2 separate regions of the Homo sapiens genome follow, and region 2 is linked to region 1. The links come from fine-mapping of genetic effects on gene expression. Tissue or cell type: whole blood. Region 1 holds a variant in brackets; the other region holds the start of a gene. All regions are shown on one strand. Distances are from middle to middle.

Evidence for each region.
Region 2: PXDN starts here. The variant in region 1 is fine-mapped to the expression of PXDN in whole blood (TOPMed, PIP above 0.99).

The regions. Positions count from the first base shown.
Region 1 is chr2:1,810,192-1,813,094 of GRCh38, reverse strand. All of the region lies in intron 21 of MYT1L (myelin transcription factor 1 like), which reads left to right. Among named protein-coding and RNA genes, the nearest start is that of PXDN, 67 kb to the right of the region's middle. The variant G/A (reference allele first, on the strand shown) is at 1,501.
Region 2 is chr2:1,743,238-1,746,096 of GRCh38, reverse strand. PXDN (peroxidasin) reads left to right here and starts at 1,582. Exons shown (of 23, transcript NM_012293.3): 1 at 1,582-1,841. The coding sequence starts at 1,642.

The sequences.
Region 1 (2,903 bases):
GAGAGGTTCAGCGGGGGAAAGATGGGAGCTGCTCCCTGCATTTGTGAGGATCATACTGAGCCGGGCTGGGCCACACGCACCGTGGACCGACCAGGCGTCACCCTTGTCCTACAGTCACAGTCTTAGGACCTCTGCAGGAGGCCCTCACCCCAGCCCTCCTCTCATCTTAACCCAGGGCGGCAGCTGCATTCAAGAGTCTTTTTTTTTTTTTTTTTTTTTGAGACGGAGTCCTGCTCTGTCACCCAGGCTGGAGTGCAGCAGTGCGATCTCGGCTCACTGCAACCTCTGCCTCCCGGGTTCAAGAGATTCTCCTGCCTCAGCCTCCCAAGTAGCTGGGATTATAGGCACCTGCCACCACGCCCAGCTAATTTTTGTATTTTTAGTAGAGACAGGGTTTCACCATGTTGGCCAGGCTGGTCTGGAACTCCTGACCTCATGATCTGTCCGCCTCGGCCTCACAAAGTGCTAGGATTACAGGCATGAACCACCGCGCCCGGCTAAGAGTCTTCTCTTAACTTGGAAGTCCTGCAAAATCCTGCCGCAGGCCTCTTTGAGGGCTCAGTCTGCACCTTCCAGAGCCTGGGTGCACTCACACTCACCCTGGGCCTCCACTCACTGAGCCATCACAAAGTGCATTCAGACATTTTATGCTTTCAGAAGTCGTCACTGGGCACCTATTCCATCTCCAGCACTCTCCCATCATGGGGATACAGAGCAGTGAACAAAAAAGTGCATTTTAATCCTTGCCCTCAAGAATACACATTCTTTTCATTAAACTTCACAAACACAGTCAATTCAATATTTTATTCTCATTTCATAAGTGAGCAAACAGGACTGCCTAAGTCTTTCCTAGCCAGTTCCACGTCTTATGTGCGTTAGAGCATCAGGGGGTGCGGTGTGAGGTCCAGTGGGCCTCCTGGTCTCACAAAGGACTTGCCAGATGTAGTCACCTGACTGCAGAGTCTACCTGGATGCGGGGGCCAAAGCGCAGACACACCTGCAGGAAGATGTGTGTGACAGCCACAGTGTGTCCAGTGGCAGGAAGGGGAAAAGTGGCGTTAACATCCAAGCATCCTATTTTAGGAGAGCCTTAACAGATCTTTTGAGAACTTCTTATTTTACAAATGAAAATATCCAGCTCGCCTTCAGAAGCAGATTTACGGATAAGCTAGGGAAGCAGAAGTGTCAGCCCCCACCCCAGCCGGATTTGCAGGGCGTCCTGCTGGGATCTGATGGGGAGGCAGGAGAAGACCCAGGAGGGTGCCCCGGAGTGGGGACGACTGCCAGGTTGTTGCCCAGGCCCCATCAGGGAGGACTGAAGAGGAGCCTGTTCCCTCCGGAACGCGAGGGGTTCGTTCACGCCCCACACTAAAGACAGCTTGAGTAGCACAGGGATTTCCGGTGTAAACAGCAGCAGGCAGGGTGAGAGGATCCATCAGAAGCAGCAGTGCCAATGTCTAGTAACAAATAAATGAACAAAAAAACAGCAAAGGGAACCAC[G/A]AGCCAGGACCCCCTCAGGGACTGTCCGGATTCCTGGGGATGCAGTCAGGGCAAGCAGGAGAAGCCAGGGCGCCCACCGTGCCCACCCTGTCAGGCCACCCAGTTCCCAGAGGCCTCTCTGCTCCTGGGGCTTCCCGTGCGGCTTGCCCTGGGATGGGATAGGACGCGGGAGCTGATGATGCTGGAGCTGATGACGCCAGAGCTGATGACGCCAGAGCTGATGATGCTGGAGCTGATGACGCTGGGGTTAAAGTCCCCGCTGCTCCTTCTCCCACTGAACCTAGGAACATCATCAGCAAACACAGCAGTTCACAGCCACAGAGTTGTGGTATGAGCAACAAATACTGGTGATTGTCTTAGACGTTCCAGGGCTGCAAAAACAAATACCATACCTTGGGCAGCATAGAAACCAGAAATTTATTCCTCCAAGTTCTGGAGACTGGAAGTCCGAGACCGAGGCACCAGCAGATTCGGCATCTGGCAACTGCTGCTCTCTGGTTGGTGGACGACGCCTTCTCACTCTGTCCTCACATGGGAGAAGGGGTTAAGGAGCTGTCTGGGTCCCTGTTATAAGGGCACGGATCCCATCACGAGGCCTCCTCACTTCCCATACGCCCCTTCTCCTAACACCATCCCGGTGGGGGTCAGGATTTCAGTGCACGAGTTTTCAGGGGACACAGTCAGGCAACAGCAATGATTATTTAGAATTTTATGAATATTCTATTATAATTATGAGATGCAAACATCACATCAAAAAAATAACAACTTAGACCTGTGGTGTGGATGAAGAATACTGGAAATATTTTTATACAAAGATAGGATTTCCCCAAAAACAACCACTAATATCCCCAGTTGAAAATGTATTACGATCAAGTTCTTCTGCTATGAATTTTCCTGTTTTCTTAAATTTTAAAAGAAAATGTATTACAAAAATAATATTTAGAAAGCTTAATTATATTAATGCAGATATTAGAGATATTTCTAATAATGATGTAATCTGCCTGCACTAGTAAAGAGTGTTTCTAGATATATCACTAACACATCATCACACCACTTACGGACACGGTCCATCTAACACTTCATATACAGGTGAAATACAATATTATGTATAGAGAGAATAAACACATATGTCATATACATATATAAAACATTATAGGCGGGGTGCGGTGGCTCATGCCTGTAATCCTAGCACTTTGGGAGGCCAAGGCGGGCAGATCACCTGAGGTCAGGAGTTGAAGACCAGCCTGGCCAATATGGTGAAACCCTGTCTCTACTAAAAATACAAAAATTAGCCAGGTGTGGTGGCACACACCTGTAATCCCAGAGGCTATAATTCTGTAATCGGGAGGCTGAGGCGGGAGAATCACTGGAACCCAGGAGGCAGAGGCTGCAGTGAGCCGACA
Region 2 (2,859 bases), 67 kb after region 1:
TCTTGCAGGAGAGATGTCTGCAGTGTGAGCTGGACCCACTTCTGTGTGTGGATAGTATCCTGCAGGAGAGATGTTGTCTGCAGTGTGAGCTGGGCCCACCGGAGTGTGTGAATAGGATCCTGCAGGAGAAATGGAATCCGGAGTGTGAGCTGCATCCGCTGTAGAGGGTGGATAAAATCCTGCAGGAAAGATGGCATCTGGAATGTCAGCGGGAGCCACCGACCTCTGAGGATGCACCCCGCAGGTGTGATGCGGGGCCAGTTCCAAGGCTGGGTTAGGTTTTACCCTGGCTTCTGTGTTGTACTCTCATTCTCTTCCTCTTTCTTCTAATACCTGCTCTGGGAGGCATCAGGCCATGTCCAGTGTGCAGGCCATGGAGACCCACACGGCAAGGAACTGGAACCCCCTGCCAGCAGCCTCGGGGGTCCAGTCCTTAGATGGTGCCCTGTGGTCAGCAATGCACCTGTGACCTCCGGGCTATGTCTCGTGGTAGTTGCTTTTGTGTTTTAACATAGCAACAGGAAACTAGCCTATTACCCACCAATCCCATTCCAGGCTGCTTTCAAACGCAGCTCAGGCTAGAACACCAGCACGGGGACACAGCTGAGACTTGGGGTTTGCGACGGGAACACGCCCATGCTGTGCCTCTGAATCTGGCACCGTCACCCTGTGGCCTGGGTTCAGCAACTTGGCCTCACCTTCCTTGTCTGTGAAATTCAGACTGGGTCCTTGTGAGATGATTGGAGAGAATGTATGAACTATGTGAGAACGCCACCTTTGTGCGTATCTCACGCAGTGTCTTCCCTCCTTTCCAAAGTCTTCTGCTGTCTCTAGACACACCCGACGTGGGGGGGGGGGGTTCCCTGGGTCTCCTCCTAGGTCTGTCCCAGGAGGGCACGCACTGAAGGCCGCGAGAATCCCGGGGGCTGCATTGCGCCGCGCCAAGGACTCCACACAGGACCTTTCATTTTCCCAACTGTGCTGAGCCAGGCGGCCGGCAGAGAGCAGGTGGCTGACAGGCCCCGGGGAGCCGGACCGCCTGGGTCTAATCTTCCCGCAGACTCCCTTGCTGTGCGCTTTGGGGCTTGGGCCTCAGTTTCCTCAAAAGGAATGAGGGGCTTTTTTGGAACGTTAAATAATTTCCTACGTGGTTGCGGGTAGGGAGAAGGAGAAAGAGAGGAGCGCGCCTGCGCGCCTGGAATCGTGCCCGGATCAGAGCAAGCGCTCTAAAAGTGTTACAAACATTAAGGCGCCAACTAAAAAACCCGTAGTGAGCGCAGGCAGAAACCACGGGTAAGAGAAGTGGAGAAGCTTCGCGTAGGCCCCAGGGTCCCGAGCCCCGAGTCTCGAGCGCAGAATCAGGGGTGCCAATGCTCTCCTCCGCGCCCCCGAGCGCTCGCCTTGGCCATGCGGGCCGCCCCACCGGGATGAGGGCGCTCAGGCCGGACGCTGGGGCCCCGGGTTCTCGCCCCGCCCCGCCCTCGGGGATTCAGAGGGGCCGGGAGGAGCCTCGCGCATGTGCACAGCTGGCGCCCCCCGCCCCCCGCGCACAGCTGGGACGTGGGCCGCGGCCGGGCGGGCGCAGTCGGGAGCCGGCCGTGGTGGCTCCGTGCGTCCGAGCGTCCGTCCGCGCCGTCGGCCATGGCCAAGCGCTCCAGGGGCCCCGGGCGCCGCTGCCTGTTGGCGCTCGTGCTGTTCTGCGCCTGGGGGACGCTGGCCGTGGTGGCCCAGAAGCCGGGCGCAGGGTGTCCGAGCCGCTGCCTGTGCTTCCGCACCACCGTGCGCTGCATGCATCTGCTGCTGGAGGCCGTGCCCGCCGTGGCGCCGCAGACCTCCATCCTGTGAGTGCCGCGGGGGACGCCGGGGGCGCGGGGTCCGGGGCTTCGTGGAGATCCGGGAGCGCAGGGGTGATCGGAGGTGGGGGGCGCGGAGGGTGGAGGGGGCATCGGGCGCGCGGGGGGCCTGGGGACTTGGGACGCAGAAGGGAACCTCCGAAGGGGGACGTGGGGGGACCTGGGCGCGGGGACCCGCTGGGCCTTTGTTCGCCCTGCGGGAGACGCCGAGGGGCGGAACAGAGCGCTGTGCGCGCGGCCTTCGTAGCCGCCTTTGTTCGGAACTCGGAATCCCCGCAGGACTGGGAAGTTGTTGGAGCCTCCGGGGCTCCCCCCGCTCGCCTCCCGCCGCCCCCTCTCATGCTCCGCCGGCCTCCCGCTTCCCCCTGGTTCGCGGCCCCTCCTCCGCTCACCTTTCCCCCGCTCAGGACCCCTCGGTCCCCCTCCGCTCCCCGAGCGCGGCGCAGCCCCCTCCGTCCTCCCAGCCCCCTCCGCCCCGTTCCTCGTCCTGTTCGCTCCCCTCCTCCGCTCCTCTTCCTCCTCCCCTTCCTCCTCCTCCTCCCCTTCCTCCTCCTCCTCCCCTTCCTCCTCCTCCTCCCTTCCCCTCCTCCTCCCCCCCTTCCTTCTCCTCCCCCAGCCTCCGCCCTCTCCCCCTCCCCCGCCCCTTGGAGCGCAGTGCCCACCCCATCCCCCCGCGCCGGGGAAGCCTCCCCAGAGGAGCCTCAGTTCCCGCAGCCGCGGCGCCCCCGCTCCCAGTGCCCCCGCATCTGCCCGGAGCGTCCTCTCCTGGGGTGTCCTGGGGGCCCCGCGCTTCTCAGGGGCTTTTCCTGCGCCCGGAGCGAGCCGGGCGGCCGGGGTTCCCGAGAGGGGCCGCGCGGTAGTCTCGGGGCAGCCCGGGTCTAGATGGAGCCGGGACTCAGAGCGGGTTTCTGCCTCGGGCATTTCTCTTCTTTCGCTTCTAATCCACGCGAGCGTGTTCGCAGTTGCGCTATACGTTTAACCGGATGCGTTGCGTTGGGGTTGACAC